4 linked regions of the Homo sapiens genome follow. The protein of the gene in region 4 purifies or fractionates together with the protein of the main gene of each other region. This does not show direct contact. Each region holds a gene or a part of one and is shown on either strand. Other genes may lie near its edges.

Region 1 (3,500 bases), on a different chromosome or scaffold from region 4:
TAGTCCTTAACAGTGGAGGGGAAAGGAAGGCATTCACATTCATCTCCTTGAATCTGCCTAACATCCCTGCAAAGTAAGCCTTCTTTCATAGAGGAAGACACTGAGGTTCAAAGAGGTTTCGCTGCTGGTGCAGAGTAAAGCCAGGACTCAAACCCAGGCCTATCAAATCCCAACACCTGAAGCCATCCAGCTCTCACGGGTGAATGACTTCAAGGAGCACTACTCACCAGGATCATCTAACTCCCTGGATCTTGACAGCATATTCTCTATGGAAATTTCTAATATAGCTTTGATTCCCCAAAGAGGTTTCATACAAAGAAAATGAGAGATTATGGTTCACCCAGTAGTTCTGTAACATTTCCTATAAAGTATCAGCAATAATAATTCAAGTAGTTATAGTAATGGGAGTAACTGCCAACATTTACTGAGCACTTACTATGACAAACACTTCTCTTTTCTATCTATAATCACTCCTTTGTGATCTTACCTAATTCCATGACTTTAAATACCATTTATACTAATGATCCCCAAATCCTTACCTTTAGCTTGGACCTTTTCCAAATGCCTACCCAATATCCCCACTTGCATGTCTATTCAGTATCTCAAACTAAACACATCTGAAACCAAACTCTTGATTCCATCCCTTAATCCTCCTCCTCCCCCTACATCTCCACATCACAGTAAATGACAGAACCATCCTTCCAGATGCTCAGGCCAAAAACCTTAGAGTCATCTTTGACTCCTCTTTCTCTCAAACTCCACATCCAACCAATCCATCAGCAAATCCCATCAGCTCTACCTTCAAAATATATTCAGATCCAATCACTTCTCACCACTGCCACCACCAAGCACTCAAAATTTACTCAACTTACTGATAATGTCATTTTAATCTTCATAATAACCCTGTGAAATTGGTGCTACTACTTCCTCCATTTTTCAGAGGCACATAAAGGTTAAGTACAAATTAACAAACTGAGATTATAGTTTACCAATCAGGTCTTTCTTTTTGAGTTTATAGAGTCAGATGCCTGGAATCTCCCCAGTATCAGATCGGGGGTAAAGATCCCACTCTTTACCCCCATCAAAGGGATCTAATTACCTTCCTGAACTTACAACGACTTGGACCCATACAAGACCAGTCCAGAGAGAGCTGGAGTAAGTATACACAAGCTTAACTGTCAAACACTGGTCTGATTGTGAGCTCCAAAGTCCCACCAAGGTCTCAATGCTGAAATTACCATTAGTTTCCAAACCGCATGCCTTAGTTTCTCTTTACTCAGTAAAGGGGTACCAGGTCCACACTTTTTAGACTTAAGAAAAGGAACTTGTTAGAAGGTCACATCATGAATCACTGGAAAGAAAATCAAGCTAAGAAATGAACCCCTCATGCACATACCTAGAAGGCAAACAACCCCTTTCTGTCCTAAAGACATTCTGTCTTTGAAAAGAAACCCATTTTCCTGAAATGGTATCACCTGGGAAAGGTCCAGAGAGGATCCAGGAGGGCCTCTGAGGATAAAGCTACCAACTTTCCACACGACTCTTTAGTGAGCTGATGGGAAAATGGGTGCAATAGGATTAGGGCAGGTTGGTTTCCACTCCTCTTCTGACCTGCACCTCCAACAAAACCAGTTTTGAAAATCAAATGAGTTGATAAATGTGAAATTCAAAGTTTCATATAAAAATAACCTTTTATTGTAAAAAAGAATACTTTGTTTTCTTTAGTGGAGTGGTAACACAGGGTAAGCTGCAAGGATAGAAAATTTTAAGACCCATCAGACAAAGAAGAAGTAAGCACTTTTCAGGGCTAAACACAGGGTATCATTTTAAAAGTCTGTATGAGCAAGATAAAATCCAGCCTATGTATTTAAAATATAGGGGTTATAGCTTAAAATCAGTGCCCCTTTTAAAAATTGTTATTTTTTCGATCACGCCACTGCATTCCAGCTCTGTCACCCAGGCTGCATGCAGTGCAGTGGCACAATCACACCTCACCACAGTCTCTACCTCCTGGGCTCAAGTGATCCTCCCACCTCAGCCTCCTGAGTAGCTGGGATTACAGGTGCACATCACCATGTCCAGCCAATTTTTTATTTTTTGTAGAGATGGGGTCTCCCTATGTTGCCCAGGCTGGTCTTGAACTCCTGGACTCAAGTAATCTCCTTGCCATGGCCTTCCAAAGTGCTGGGATTACAGGTGTGAGCCACCATGCCCAACCCCTTTTACTCAATAAGTCTGACTACATATCTTTCAAAGATCTGTATGACTTTACTGTGTACCTAGGGAAAAAAACAGAAGGAATATTCACCAAACTCTTAATGGTCACCTCTGGATGGCAGGAGCATATCAGGGCTTTCACTCTCTATATCATACTCTTCTTTGTCTGCAATTTTATAATCAGGGCGAACTAATTTTCTAGGAAGAATATTTGGGGGGGTAGAAAAACCTTTCCTCTAGTCTTACATTAACAGATGCAAGTTTCTATAAATAACATATTTCACTTTTTATCTTAATTTTGTTAATAAAATTTTCTCTTTTATGACATTTAATTTCCATTATCAGCTGGTTTCATCCTCTATAACTTGTAGGTTTTGGAAATGTTGAGTCAATGAATTCTAATGCCACTCTAGAAACACTTTCAGTTAAATTGTTCAAATATAATAGAGTACCACCTTGAGGAAATCTGAAATAGCAAGGATTGCAGAGTATGGAAGAAACTGAATCCCAGTCCCTCCCACACCCATTCCGGAATGCATATCACCATCACCCAGCATGTTACAGCATGCCTGATGTGTAAGCACTGTGTGAGGCTCTGGTCTCTGCCCTTGAGGAGCCTTCCACACAGCTTGAAAAAGAGGACACACATCCAACATCACAAGTCAGCTATTGGCTCCAGTAGCAAATACTACACATGGTACTGACAATGAGTTCAGAGGACGAAGAGAAAGGACTTTGAAATTCCTGCTTAAATAGGTCCTTTACAAGAAGAGGTAGCTCTTACTTCCATATTCCCACAGCTTAGCACAATAAGTAATTTTTTTTTAAGTTAATGAGTGCATGGGACCCACACTTGGAGACGAAAAGGTATGACATTCCAAGCTGGAAGAATGGTGGCAGCAAGAAAGGGCATGATTGGAATGTGCATGTTCAGCTATGTAAAGTGTAAAGAGAGGGATAGAAAGTTGGAAAACCCAATTTGTTGAACTCTCATCTCACAGCCAGTGAGAGACTACAGAGGACTTTGATTATGCAAAGGCGACCTATTTATGTAACTGTCTTCCTTTCTAGGTTCCCTGAGGAACCTGAGGGTGACAGCTGGGTCTTAAGGACTCTGGATCCCTACCATATCCTGGAACATGACAGGTATTCAATTAAATGTGAGGGAAAGGAAAGAAGGATTGATTAGGCTGGAAAGATTATGCTAATGCCACAATACTGAAGGTTCTAGAAAAATAAGGAACCAGAAATCAAAGTGAGAGGTGCTTTCTTTTTTTATAATT
Region 2 (3,500 bases), on a different chromosome or scaffold from region 4:
GTACAAGGGAGACTCTGCGGTGCTGGTAATGTTCTGTTTCATGATCTAGGTGCTGGTTACGTAGGTGCATTCACCTTATGAATATTTATCAAGCTGTATATGATTTGTGCACTTTTCTGTATGTATAATTATAGCTCAGTAAAAATGTTTACTAAAAAGAGTAACAAGACTATATATATATATATATATATATATATGTATGTATATGCAAACCTAAACTAGTTAGAAGATACTTGAAGAGAAGACCACCTTTGTGATAGCAAAAGTAAAAAGAAAACTTAATGTGTAAATTTAAGACACATCTAAAATCTGTATGAGGAAAACTAAAAAAACTCTTGAGAGGCAAAAATGTAGATTCCACCAAATGGAAAGATACATGATATTCTTAGATAGACAACATCAAAACATGTCTTTCCCCACTTAGGTTCATTTATAAATTCAGTGCCATTCCAATAAAAATTATATTGTTATTTGAGAGAACATACTAGAATAACCATGGAAACTGAAAAGAATTAGAGGGGACCAGCCATATCCGACACTAAAACATACTCTAAATCCTCCATGGCAGAAGCTATCAGAATTTTTTAAAGTGTGCACACTTTTTGGCCCAGATACTCTCTATCTATAGATTTAGCATAAAGAAACATGCAAATAGGCAATGATACATTTTCAAGGATCTCACAGCCACATTTTTGTAATTGTGAAAAATAAGACACATTATGATACATTTATGTAACTCAATACTATGCAACTGTTAAAGTATGGATATTGGAAGGCATTCGTAATGTTGAATAAATGAAAAGTTTTGTATTGGCACATAAATAGGAAGTCCAATGGAACAGAAGAGGAATTCCAGAAATAGACTCAGTGGCATTTAGAATACAGTAAAGGCAGCATCTCAAGTTAGTGAGAAAATGAACTTTTAAGTAAGTGCTATTGAGATTACTGGTGCTTAATTATTCAGATATTTACAATTTTAAAAAATATATAGCTTATTTCACTTTGAACCTTTTTTTAAAATGGTCATTTAGTTTTATAATTTAAAGAAAAATGATAGTTCTCTCCCCATCCCAGCCTATACTATACCCACAGCCTATACTTCCTGGAGGTAAACACCACTGTTGCATACATCTTTCAGACCTTTAATCTCTGTATATAGAGATATAGAAATAGAGAATATTCTTTAAATATCTGAACATTTAAGTATTACTCATCCCAATACAATATATACTTATACAAATAGATATATGTATGTATACTATACATAAAGATCTGAGGTACTAAATATTCCATGGTTTTTTTTCATTCAACAATGTATTATGAATGCCTTTCAATAGCCATACTTTAATAGTTGCATAGTATCACGTTGCATAAACATATTAGGTCAGTGCATAAGTAATTGCACTTTTTACCATTTTAATGGCAAATGAGGCACTGATTAATCAGTGCCTTATTTTTCACAACTACAAAAATATTGCTGTGAGATCCTTGAAAATGTATAATTGCCCATTTGCATGTTTCTTTAAATTTATAGATAAGGAATTACTGGGGCAAAAAGTGTGCACAATTTAAATTTGATGTTTTTGTTTTTGCCAAGCTGCTTTTTAAGAAGGTTGTACTAATGCACACTTTTATCTTGACACTAAGATTTTAAATATGATCAGAAAATGGGTTTCTGATAGTAAAACTGTCTACTTGTAATAATTGTGGCATTAGAAAAGACCTTTGTGGCTTCGTTCCTCAAACTCATTTACGAATTATAAATCTGAATTCCAAATATGAATTAACTCACACAAGATAAAGCTTTAACAGTTAGTAGCAGTACTGTAACTAGAGTGCATGTTTTCTGTCTCCAGAAATAACATTCTTTTTATGCCACATTTTTTTAACTGAGGTGATCATTCTCCACCCTCTTCTTTCCATGTTTTTCCATGTTTGTTCAAACTTTTCATTAAATATCTTGAGGCTCTAACTAAATTAAGGGTGGCCATTAAAATTGTATGTGGGATTCCCTGAACCAACTGGTAATGCACTACCAGCATATAAGGTGTCCTCATTAAAGCAGTTGGTGATTGGTACATGGGACCTCACTCATGTATGTTTGCATCTACTTGTGAGTCAAAAAGTTTTCTTAAAGTATAGGTGGGATCATGAAAGACATACAATTCACTGGAGAAATTGTGAAAAAGTAAAAGATTATGAATTTAGGCTCAAAGCCAATTTCCCTCTCATTTAATTCTACATGAGCAAGTCAAGGAGTTTGGTAGAGCTTTATGAAATCTCTAAAGATTGAAGGAAAACAATCACTAAAATCGATTTGATAAAGTGCAACTAAGTAGTATGCTAGCCTGTTAATGGATTTTCATCTTGTCATTTAAGTTTCAGCAATTGAGTACCACACTAGAACACCCACAAATGAGATTCTGTTACAGAGTATCTTTTTTCTACTACAGAACATACTGTAGACAGTTATTCAGTGGTTAACTTGTGGAAATAATCAGAAGATGCTTTTCACTTTTATGACTGGATATATTTTAATATTTATCATATTAAGAGAAACTTAGGTTACTTACAGCTCATAAACGTTGCTATGAACATCATTCATTTATTCACTTATTTATTTTTATGGTGTTCCTAGAAAGAATTTCCTGGACTAAAGGATTTATGCTTTAAAAATATTGGTAGTTACTGCCAAGAATTGCCATCCAGAAACAGTGTAGCCATTCATAAACTCAACAACAAGGTATGAGAGTGCCTGTTTCCTCATATCCTTTGTGACACCGGATTTTATCAAGCTTAAAGTTTTTTCATTCTAGGTGGGTGAAAATGGTATTCCGTTATTGATAATGTGTGGAAATCAAGTTCTAATAAGTTTGGGGGGAGGTTAATTCTTTATATGTGCTGTATGAATTAATGCCAACTGTATGCCTTTGAGAGTGAAATCAGAATAATGTCTCTCCACTAAAGCAGGACTTAGAGCACTAGTTTTCCAAATGTTGTCTACAGATGGAAACACTAGCATCACCTGGGTACTCGTTAGAAAGTGCAGATTCTCTGGCGGTACCTTAGACCTCCTGAATTAGAAACTCTGGGGGTAGGGTTAGACATTTGTGTTTTAAACAAGCCCTCCAAGTGGTTTCAATGCACATTCAAAGTTGAGAACCAATCACTGATAGAGAAAAAGCAGCTTGGGTAGAAACAGTTGATTATTTGCAAATTTATATTTTAAAAAGATAGGATTCTTAACAGTAAGCTCTTTATAATTCAACAATGTGATCTTTACTCCTACCCCCGAAAAACTAATATGATTTTAGTGTGTGGTAGCTGGATCGAAAACATAATAAATACTCAGATATGCAAAGAAAACGTTTTCTCAAATGGATTTCATTTTTATTTACCCATATCTTTGGCTATTAAGGGATGGGGGGAGGCTAAGGAAAAGGGCCATTTGAATGTGTTAGCTAACAATCTCAGTCTCTTCCGATTTCAGCAGTGTCTTT
Region 3 (4,115 bases), on a different chromosome or scaffold from region 4:
TGCTATAGAGTACAGTAAAAGCTTCTACTGTAACCTGCAGCATCTCCAGCAGTCTGAAACATAAGCCCACTGAACAAAGATAGTAATTCACGTTTAATACTTGTTTTCAAAAAACAATGACCACCAGTTTCCACAATGGAAAAGACCAACATCTACCATCTAAGTTTTTCCTGGCAGATCATTCAACCAAGCACTTCACTGAAAGTAAGACTTCTCAGGTATCAAAAGAACAATTTATCTACCTTTACCTACAGGAACTACTGATGCCTATTTCCTATGGTGTCTTGATAAACTGTCTAAAACTGCTTCACCAATTGTTTGCTAAGTATTGTATTTAAAACAAGCATTTAAATAAAATGGCTTCTTTGATTTATTAAATAAAAAAACAACAAGAATCATTTACCTTCTATCTCCACCAATGGTTCTTGGGTAAACTCCTGAAAGAATTTGTAGAAGAACTTACTACAAGCAGCCAAAACAGCCTTGTGAGCCTTAAAATGGTGTCCTAGGTAAAATAAGAAAAAAAAAGAAAATCATACACAAGCACGAAAATCAAATGTATAACTACAAAATAGACTTAAAAATCATATAAAGCAAAATAGGTCTTCCTTCATTACGTAACTACAGAAATTATTGAACTAAATGCAGAATATTCTTGGCAGCTATCTTGGCAAATGTTAATCTCAATTAGATATAAAGCTAAATCTTCACTTCAAACCCCTTTAGTTTTATAAAGCCTAATTTACAACACTAGGTAAGGAGCCTCTTGACACTCTGTTGTTTCCAATTAAGTAGTGAGAAGCATATCCAACTCAGTTGAAACTGCTAAATAAAAGGACAACCCAAAAGGTCACATATCATTTGGAAAGAGAGAAAAAAACCGTAAGCACAAAGCTGGATATGTCTGCTATGAAAAACATTTTAATATGCCTAATATTTGGAAGCTCCATCTATGGTAGACCCATAATTTTAAAAACAGGTTACCTTGAGAAACCTATTTTCGCTAAACAGAAAACATACCCACGCTGGATTTCCTTCCATTATAGAGGCAACTCCTAAGGCTGGTAAAGACCCCATTTTATTTTGGAGATTCTCAAAGGGGGTATGAGTGCTGCAATGGAATCTCTCATTCTCCCTTCAAGACCATTTGGGAAACTAGAAAAAAAATCAACACTTCCCAAATGACTCCTGTAAGGGACTTCTCAAAGCTTACCAACAAGAGGCTATCAACCAAACATTTTGAGACAATCTGTCCCCAACGACATCATCTTGCACTCAACAGGATGTAAGAAGTTAAAATGAGATGAACACCAGACTACGTGGAAGGCATGACTGACCAACCAGCCTTCTGCAGCACGCTGTGTGAGTGGACACTGACAAGTGCAATCTGGTCCCAGTGCACACACTCTGCAGACTTTGGTAGGGAGACCATAGAGGATGGGTTAAAAAAAAAAAAAAAAAAAAAAAGGCGGGTGTCCGAAGGACAGAAAAAAACTGAAGCCAAAAATTCGCTCCTCTGCCCACTGCCCTACCCACCGTCGACAATTAGGGTGATGTCAGTAAACCGGTCCTGCTCTCGCTGTTCATTCAATCGGTCGAGGATCATTTTATGATGTTCAGGGAACTCCTGAAGGCATTCCATCGTCTCTTCAGCCTCCATGGCCGTCGGGCTGCTCTACAAAAGAAGAGCATGATAATGTACACCCATGAGCTCGAGCCGAGGAACAAAACCCCTAAAGCATAAAACAACAACAAAAAAAACCAGCAACGTGAAAAGAAGGGGGGAGGGTGAAGCAAGAGGAGAGAAAGGCGAGGGAAGAAAGGCGAGCCGAGCGGCCCCGGAGCGTTGAGACCGGAGCCGCGGCCGCGGGACTCCGAGCCTGACCTAATTGGAGTCGGGAGACGCGAGCTAGAGCGGGGTGGGCACAGCGCCGGAGGTTCCGAGCGCCAGGGCGCGCAAGTCCAACAAGGGAGGGGACTCGACAGCCGTGGCGGTCCTCTAACGGCCCGCCAAGCCCTTCTGCCCGGCCGGGGCTCCCACCGCCCCGGGACCCGGTCCGGCCCGCGACCCACAACGACTCTCGGGTCGCCTCTCCCTCCCCCGCCCTCCCTCTTCTCCCCCGCCCCGACCGGGCCGGCACTCACTGAGGGAAGGAGGAGCGGCCCAGGCTTGCGCGTCACTTACGTCGACGCACACCGTCACCGCGTCGAGCTCCGGCTGACGCGGACGCCTTCCGGGCGCCGACCAGCAAGGGAACGGGCCACGCCCCTACCCACACCCCTCAGTGGATGGGCGGGGCCGAGCGCGGGGATTTGGCGCTCACGAAGGGCGAGGGCTTGCTCTCTGAGAAGAAACCGGGCAGCGGTGGGCTTGGGCTACTGCAGAGCCTGGCAGGGCCAGAAGCTGGGAACCTAAGTCATTGCCCTTCAACCTCTCACCCTCCCCAGCTTGACTCCAGGGGCGGACACTTCCCGACCCGAGCCCGGAATGAACTCGCCAACCGTCCTCACAGCCCAGCTACTGCGCGGCCCCTCCCGCCCCGTCCTGCCCCGCCCCCTTCCTTCCGAGACCTGGGTTGGCCCGCCTTACCTAGCTCGTGGGTCGCCCTCCTTCCTCTCCGTCCCTCAGAGCCTCTTGTTCCGTGCTTTCCCCTCCCAGGGCATAATGCGCCCCACGCCTTTCCTGACCCCTAACCCGTGGGTCGCCCTCCATTTTCTTCGTGAGAGCCGGGGCTCCCCTTCTGCTCGGGCCCCGCTGGCGCACGTGCGTTCGGTTGGGCACCCGGGCGGCCGCGGCCCCGGCAGCGGCAGCTACGGGCGCGAGCACGTTCGGGCCGCCCGGAATCTTCCTCCGCGAAGCGCGCCCTCCCCGCGCCCTGCCGCAGCACGTGCTTGCTGGGCTCAGGACCTGGAGCTGCTCAGAATTATTTACACCGGATCCCGTTAGTGCAGGCCTTCCCCACTCCTTTAAAGAGTCCAGGCCGGCGCGGTGGCTCATGCCTGTAATCCCAACACTTTGAGAGGCCTGGGCGGGTGGAGCACATGAGGTCAGGAGTTCGAAACCAGCCTGGGCAACATGGCGAAACCCCGTCTCTACTAAAAATACAAAAATTAGCCGGGAATGGTGGTGGGCGCCTGTAATCCCAGCTATTCGGGAGGCTGAGGCAGGAGAATAGCTTGAAGCGGGGAGGTGGAGGTTGTAGTGAGCTGAGGTAGTGCCACTGCATTCCAGCCTGGGCGACAGAGCGAGACAACGTCTCAAAAAAAAAAAAAAGTCCAGTGACCCACAGTCAGCTGCATGTGACTGCTTCCTTAATTCCTCCAAAGAAATATTATATATAAATACATTTTGAGGATAATTCTATAATTGAGATTTACTTATTTTTTTCTCTCAAAGAACTTGAGAATTGGGATTACGGAGGAACTCAAATAGCTATATGGTAATAATGTCATCATAACTTCAACAGATATGTATTGAGAATCCTAGTACTAGACACTGAGAAGTCCAGCTGTGAACAAGGTATATGTGGTTTCTGCCTTTCTGAATCTTAAGTCTAGTAGACTGCATAGATATTTTGAACAGTAATTGCCTAGGTGCTTGCTGATGAGTTTTGCAACACCTGAAGAACGAAGTAACTGGGTGTCAAGGAAAGCCAGTTGACCTGTAAGAAGAGATGTGGGCGGGCGCGGTGGCTCACGCTTGTAATCCCAGCACTTTGGGAGGCCGAGTTGGGGAGGAGGAGTTCAGCCCAGGAGTTTGAGGCCAGCCTGGGCACATAGCGAGACCCCATCTGTATTAAAACAAAAAATGTTTTTAAGTGATGTGAAGTCTAAGTGTTCTTAGCCAAAAGTATAGCACATGCAAAGGCACCAAGATTATAGCATTCAGGAAACTGAAACAATGTTGCTGGATAGACGCACAAGGGTGCCTTATAAAAAGTGTTGAAGATGTCAGATTTTCTTTTTGCAAGGGGAAGCCTTGCCGCATGGTGACATCCTAAGATGTACTTTTTAAAGAGATAATTCTAGCCCCAATATGGAGAACAGATTAAATGGGACAAGCTGCTAGGAATAGAGATCAACTGGGAGACTGTTAGTAATGTAGATGAAACCAT
Region 4 (3,974 bases):
AATTTTTTTGTATTTGTAGTAGAGACGGGGTTTCATCGTGTTAGCCAGGATGGTCTCGATTTCCTGACTTGTGATCCACCCGCCTCGGCCTCCCAAAGTGCTGGGATTACAGGCATAAGCCACCAGGCCCGGCCTGTTTTTTATCTAAGACTAATGGCGAACTAACGTTTTCTTCCATCTCCTTCCCTTGATGAACTAGGACTGCAGTCATGAAATCCAACTTAAAGTTTCAGGATCTACATGACTAGGTTCAGTGTAACATGTTTTAATAATAGTCCAATATAGGCCGGGCGTGGTGGCTCACGCCTGTAATCCCAGCACTTTGGGAGGCTGAGGCGGGCGGATCACGAGGTCAGGAGATCGAGACCATCCTGGCTAACATGGTGAAACCCCAAACCCCGTCTCTACTAAAAAAATTAGCCGGGCGTGGTGGCACGCGCCTCTAGTCCCAGCTACTAGGGAGGCTGAGGCAGGAGAATCGCTTGAACCCGGGAGGCGGAAGTTGCGGTGAGCCGATATCGCGCCACCGTACTCCAGCCTAGGTGACAGAGACTCCGTCTCAAAATAATAATAATAATAATAATAGTCCAATATATAAAGCTAGTAATATAAACAATACATTTTACATGACAACACTTTGACTGGAGAAAGTGTTTTCAAGCGTAAGCACAGGCTTTGGAGTCAGGCAGACCTGGGTTTGAATACTCATTTCACCATTTATAGCAATGTGACCTGCAAAAAGATGCTTTTCTAGCCAGTTTCGTACTGGCAGTCACTGACAATACCATCCACCTCATGGGCTGTTGTGTGGAGTCAATTAAATGATCTTATAAGGTGCATGAAACACCTTAGGTACTTAAAAAATGGTAGCTGCTCTTCTTATTATGAACAAAATCAATTACTTAAAAACTTTAACACAAGAATGACATCTATAAAATGGGAATAGGGGACTTACTGTGAAGATTCAATGAGCCTATGATTTAAAAAAAACTAGTTTATATTTATGGAGCACTTCAAAACACACCACGCTCTTAAATTTTAAGTACTTTAAAATGTGCCAGAACAGTGCTTGGCAAGTAGTAAAAAACATTAGCTACTATTGTTCTTGCATTTAGCGTGTGTCCCTCTCGCTAGATTGTAAGCACTGTAAAAGTCCCTGCTAGTCTTGTTCAAGGCAACCTGCAGTATGGCAGGCACACCAGAGGTGTTCAAAAAATATCTGCTGAATGAATGAAGAGTAAACTTTGTGCTGAAGATACAAGGGCAAACACACCTTTCAACAATATCTGGATACTTTCATCGCACTTTTAACCCCCACCTCATTCCTCGCCTTCCTGGCCCCTAAAAGTGGGACAGTATGTGAAGAGACGGGCGGAACTACTTTACCTGAAGAACAGAAGATCTCTGGAGCACCTTCTCCTGCGCTGATGGGTACAAAACTAGTTTCTCCAGCAGTTCTTTGTGAAGTGGGTCGGACTCGAGGGCTTCGTAGAATGAAATGTCATGCTGGCTAAGAAGGCTGAACTTAGACTTTCGGTAGAAAGTGGCCAGGCCTTCGTGCTGCTTGATTCGAAACACCCCCTCGAGCCCGAAGGCCTCTAGGGCGGGTACCAAGCTGTCAGAAAACACTGCGCGGTCAACCTCCTGCAAACAGATGACATCGGCGTTGTAGCCGGTGAGTTCCTTCTGGATAAGGTTCTGGCGGTAGTCGAGCTCCAGGGCGTAGGGGGCACAGTATGGGTACAGAACCGTTCGCGAGAACTCAGTCTGCGCGTACGTGTCTGCCAGGATGTTGTAAGAGACAGTGCGGATGAGAGCGTCCTCAGTCACCTTCTTCGTGTAGAGATGCCGGTGGTCAAAAGTGCAGGTGCCAGGCCCAGCCTCTACCACACACACACTTTCCAACTCCCGGCTGTGCCCAAAGCGCTGCCCATCGCCTGGGGTGCAGTGAAGCTTGAGCCTTAGCCCGATGTCGGCATTGGACGGGGTGTAGACACGCTCCTCCACATCAGTCTCAGTCCAAGAAGAAGAAGGTGAGGAGGGAGACAATGACGAGGGGACACCGACCTCGGGCTCCGCCGCTCCGGGCTTGGCTTCCTTATACCAGCGGAAAAGGGAGCTGGCGGGATCCCCAAATTCGAGGCTGAGTTTGGGGCACACAGGGAACCCGGCCATGATGTAGCGCGGCAACTGCAGTTCGGTGAAGGCGGGCGGGTTGCGCTCCACCTTGTACTTAACATCGCCGATCTGCAGCACCGCGCCGTCTTGCCAGGCATCCACGTTGAGCACGTCCTCAGCCACTGCCTCTTCCCGGTAGTACAGCTTCACCACGGGCTCGCAGAACACAGCCGGCTCAGGCCCCGGCCCTGAACAGGCCGCACCGCCGCTAGCATTCGGCCGGCTCTTCCTGCTCTTCTTGGCGGCGGCCGCCTTAGCGTGACCCTTTAGGGCATTGGTAGCGATGCGGCTGAGGACTCGACCCAGCGGCTCGCTCTGGTCGCGCTGCATGTTCTTGTGGCTACCATCAGCCAAAGCGAATGACAGGCTCAGCTTGGGTTCCGAAGGTACGCAGCGCACTACAGCGCGCTCCATCGCTCCCGCCGCTGTCTGGCTCCCCGCTTCAGCCCGGCTCAGCTTCTCCACCGCCGTCCGGATCACCCGAAGCGCGGCGCGGGCGCCTGGGAGCCTCCACATGAACCTGGTGGCCTAGCGGTCGACAAGACCCGCGGCCGATCAGCGGCCTACTGTCAGGTGGAGCTGAGGAGCCGAGGCCGCCGGCTTTGACTCATTCAGATCTCGCGACTTCCGGCTAGCGAAGAGAGGGAATGAAGTGCTTCCGACTCGCACTTTCGCCTAGCGCGTGGGCACGCATGTCTGTAATACTCTGAAGATTAATTTTTACCTACACGATAGGTCAGAATTATAGGGAAGTGAAGAAAATATAAAGGTGTCAGAGGAAAATACTAGATTCCACGGTTTTGTCGAAAGTGCATGCTGGTGACGGGAGGGCATGCCCTCCAAGCCGGAAGTGGATAGGGTGGTGTCACGTGTTCCGCTTCGTTGGAGGAGGTGGACACCTGTCTTGGAATCTTGGCTGACCAGCTCTCCTCCCTGCGCCCGGGACTGGACTGCGCTAGGACGTGGAGGCCTCCACCCGGATTGCGAGCTTTACTCGCAGTGTGGAAGGTGTTGCCCATTTCATCTCCACAGCTTTGCCGACCCTGATCGCTCGTTTCGGTGGCCTGGTGGGTTCACCCCAGGCTGAGCCAGCGCCTACGCACCTCTGAGCAGAGCCTTTGTGGTAGTTAACAACGAACGATATACAATAACTCCGTTTAGTGAGCGCAGACTATGCGAGAAACGCTACACACACTATCTTATTTAAGCCTCATAGTTCTTATGAGGTAGGTCTCTTTATCCATCGCTTTACAGATGCAGAGTCCCGAGATATTACCTGCTCAGGGTCACACAACTATTAATTGGCAGAAAGAAATAGTACTGACAAACTGCGGAAGGCTGTTTGTTATTTTTTATTAGAGACAGGTTGTCACTTTGACGCCCAAGCTGGAGTGCAGTGGCCTGATCATAGCTCACTGCCCCCTCGAACTCCAGGGCTCGTGCGATCCTCCCGCCTAACCCTCTCAAGTACAAACAGGCAAGAGCCACCCAGTGTTTATTTTTAGTTAGTAAATAGGAAGACTCTATTTAGTTACTACATTTAACAAATAAAATTACAGGATCTCAGTTAAATTCAATTTCAGATAAGGAATAATAATGGGGCATATATTAAGAAATAGTTGTTTATCTGTTTATTTTATTTTTTTATTTTTTAGGTAGGGCCTTGCTCTTTCACCCAAGCTGGAGTGCAGCTGTGCGATCTTGGCTTACTGCAACTTCGGCTTCCAGAGTTCAAGCGATTCTCGTGCCTCAGCCTCCCAAGTAGCTGGGACTACAGGCACACACCACCACGCCCA

The links. Proteins that work in one complex are often made in the same cells at the same time.
Region 1: the proteins of PDE12 (region 4) and ENOPH1 fractionate together in Homo sapiens (co-fractionation; one large-scale study listed by BioGRID). This does not show direct contact.
Region 2: the proteins of PDE12 (region 4) and PGGT1B fractionate together in Homo sapiens (co-fractionation; one large-scale study listed by BioGRID). This does not show direct contact.
Region 3: the proteins of PDE12 (region 4) and ZNF131 purify together in Homo sapiens (affinity purification with mass spectrometry; one large-scale study listed by BioGRID and IntAct). This does not show direct contact.

The regions. Positions count from the first base shown.
Region 1 is NC_000004.12:82,437,090-82,440,589, reverse strand, and holds part of ENOPH1 (enolase-phosphatase E1), read right to left. Parts: intron 1-3,500. UniProt on the Homo sapiens protein: Bifunctional enzyme that catalyzes the enolization of 2,3-diketo-5-methylthiopentyl-1-phosphate (DK-MTP-1-P) into the intermediate 2-hydroxy-3-keto-5-methylthiopentenyl-1-phosphate (HK-MTPenyl-1-P), which is then dephosphorylated to form the acireductone 1,2-dihydroxy-3-keto-5-methylthiopentene (DHK-MTPene).
Region 2 is NC_000005.10:115,203,878-115,207,377, reverse strand, and holds the end of PGGT1B (geranylgeranyl transferase type-1 subunit beta), read left to right. Parts: 3' UTR 1-2,638; coding exon of another isoform or gene 2,639-2,749; 3' UTR 2,750-3,366; downstream 3,367-3,500. UniProt on the Homo sapiens protein: Catalyzes the transfer of a geranyl-geranyl moiety from geranyl-geranyl pyrophosphate to a cysteine at the fourth position from the C-terminus of proteins having the C-terminal sequence Cys-aliphatic-aliphatic-X.
Region 3 is NC_000005.10:43,119,599-43,123,713, reverse strand, and holds the start of ZNF131 (zinc finger protein 131), read right to left. Parts: upstream 2,801-4,115; 5' UTR 2,591-2,800; exon of another isoform or gene 1,676-2,590; 5' UTR 1,661-1,675; coding exon 1,537-1,660; intron 506-1,536; coding exon 404-505; intron 1-403. UniProt on the Homo sapiens protein: Plays a role during development and organogenesis as well as in the function of the adult central nervous system. May be involved in transcriptional regulation as a repressor of ESR1/ER-alpha signaling.
Region 4 is NC_000003.12:57,555,100-57,559,073, reverse strand, and holds the start of PDE12 (2',5'-phosphodiesterase 12 isoform 1 precursor), read right to left. Parts: upstream 2,801-3,974; 5' UTR 2,695-2,800; coding exon 1,387-2,694; intron 1-1,386. UniProt on the Homo sapiens protein: Enzyme that cleaves 2',5'-phosphodiester bond linking adenosines of the 5'-triphosphorylated oligoadenylates, triphosphorylated oligoadenylates referred as 2-5A modulates the 2-5A system. Degrades triphosphorylated 2-5A to produce AMP and ATP.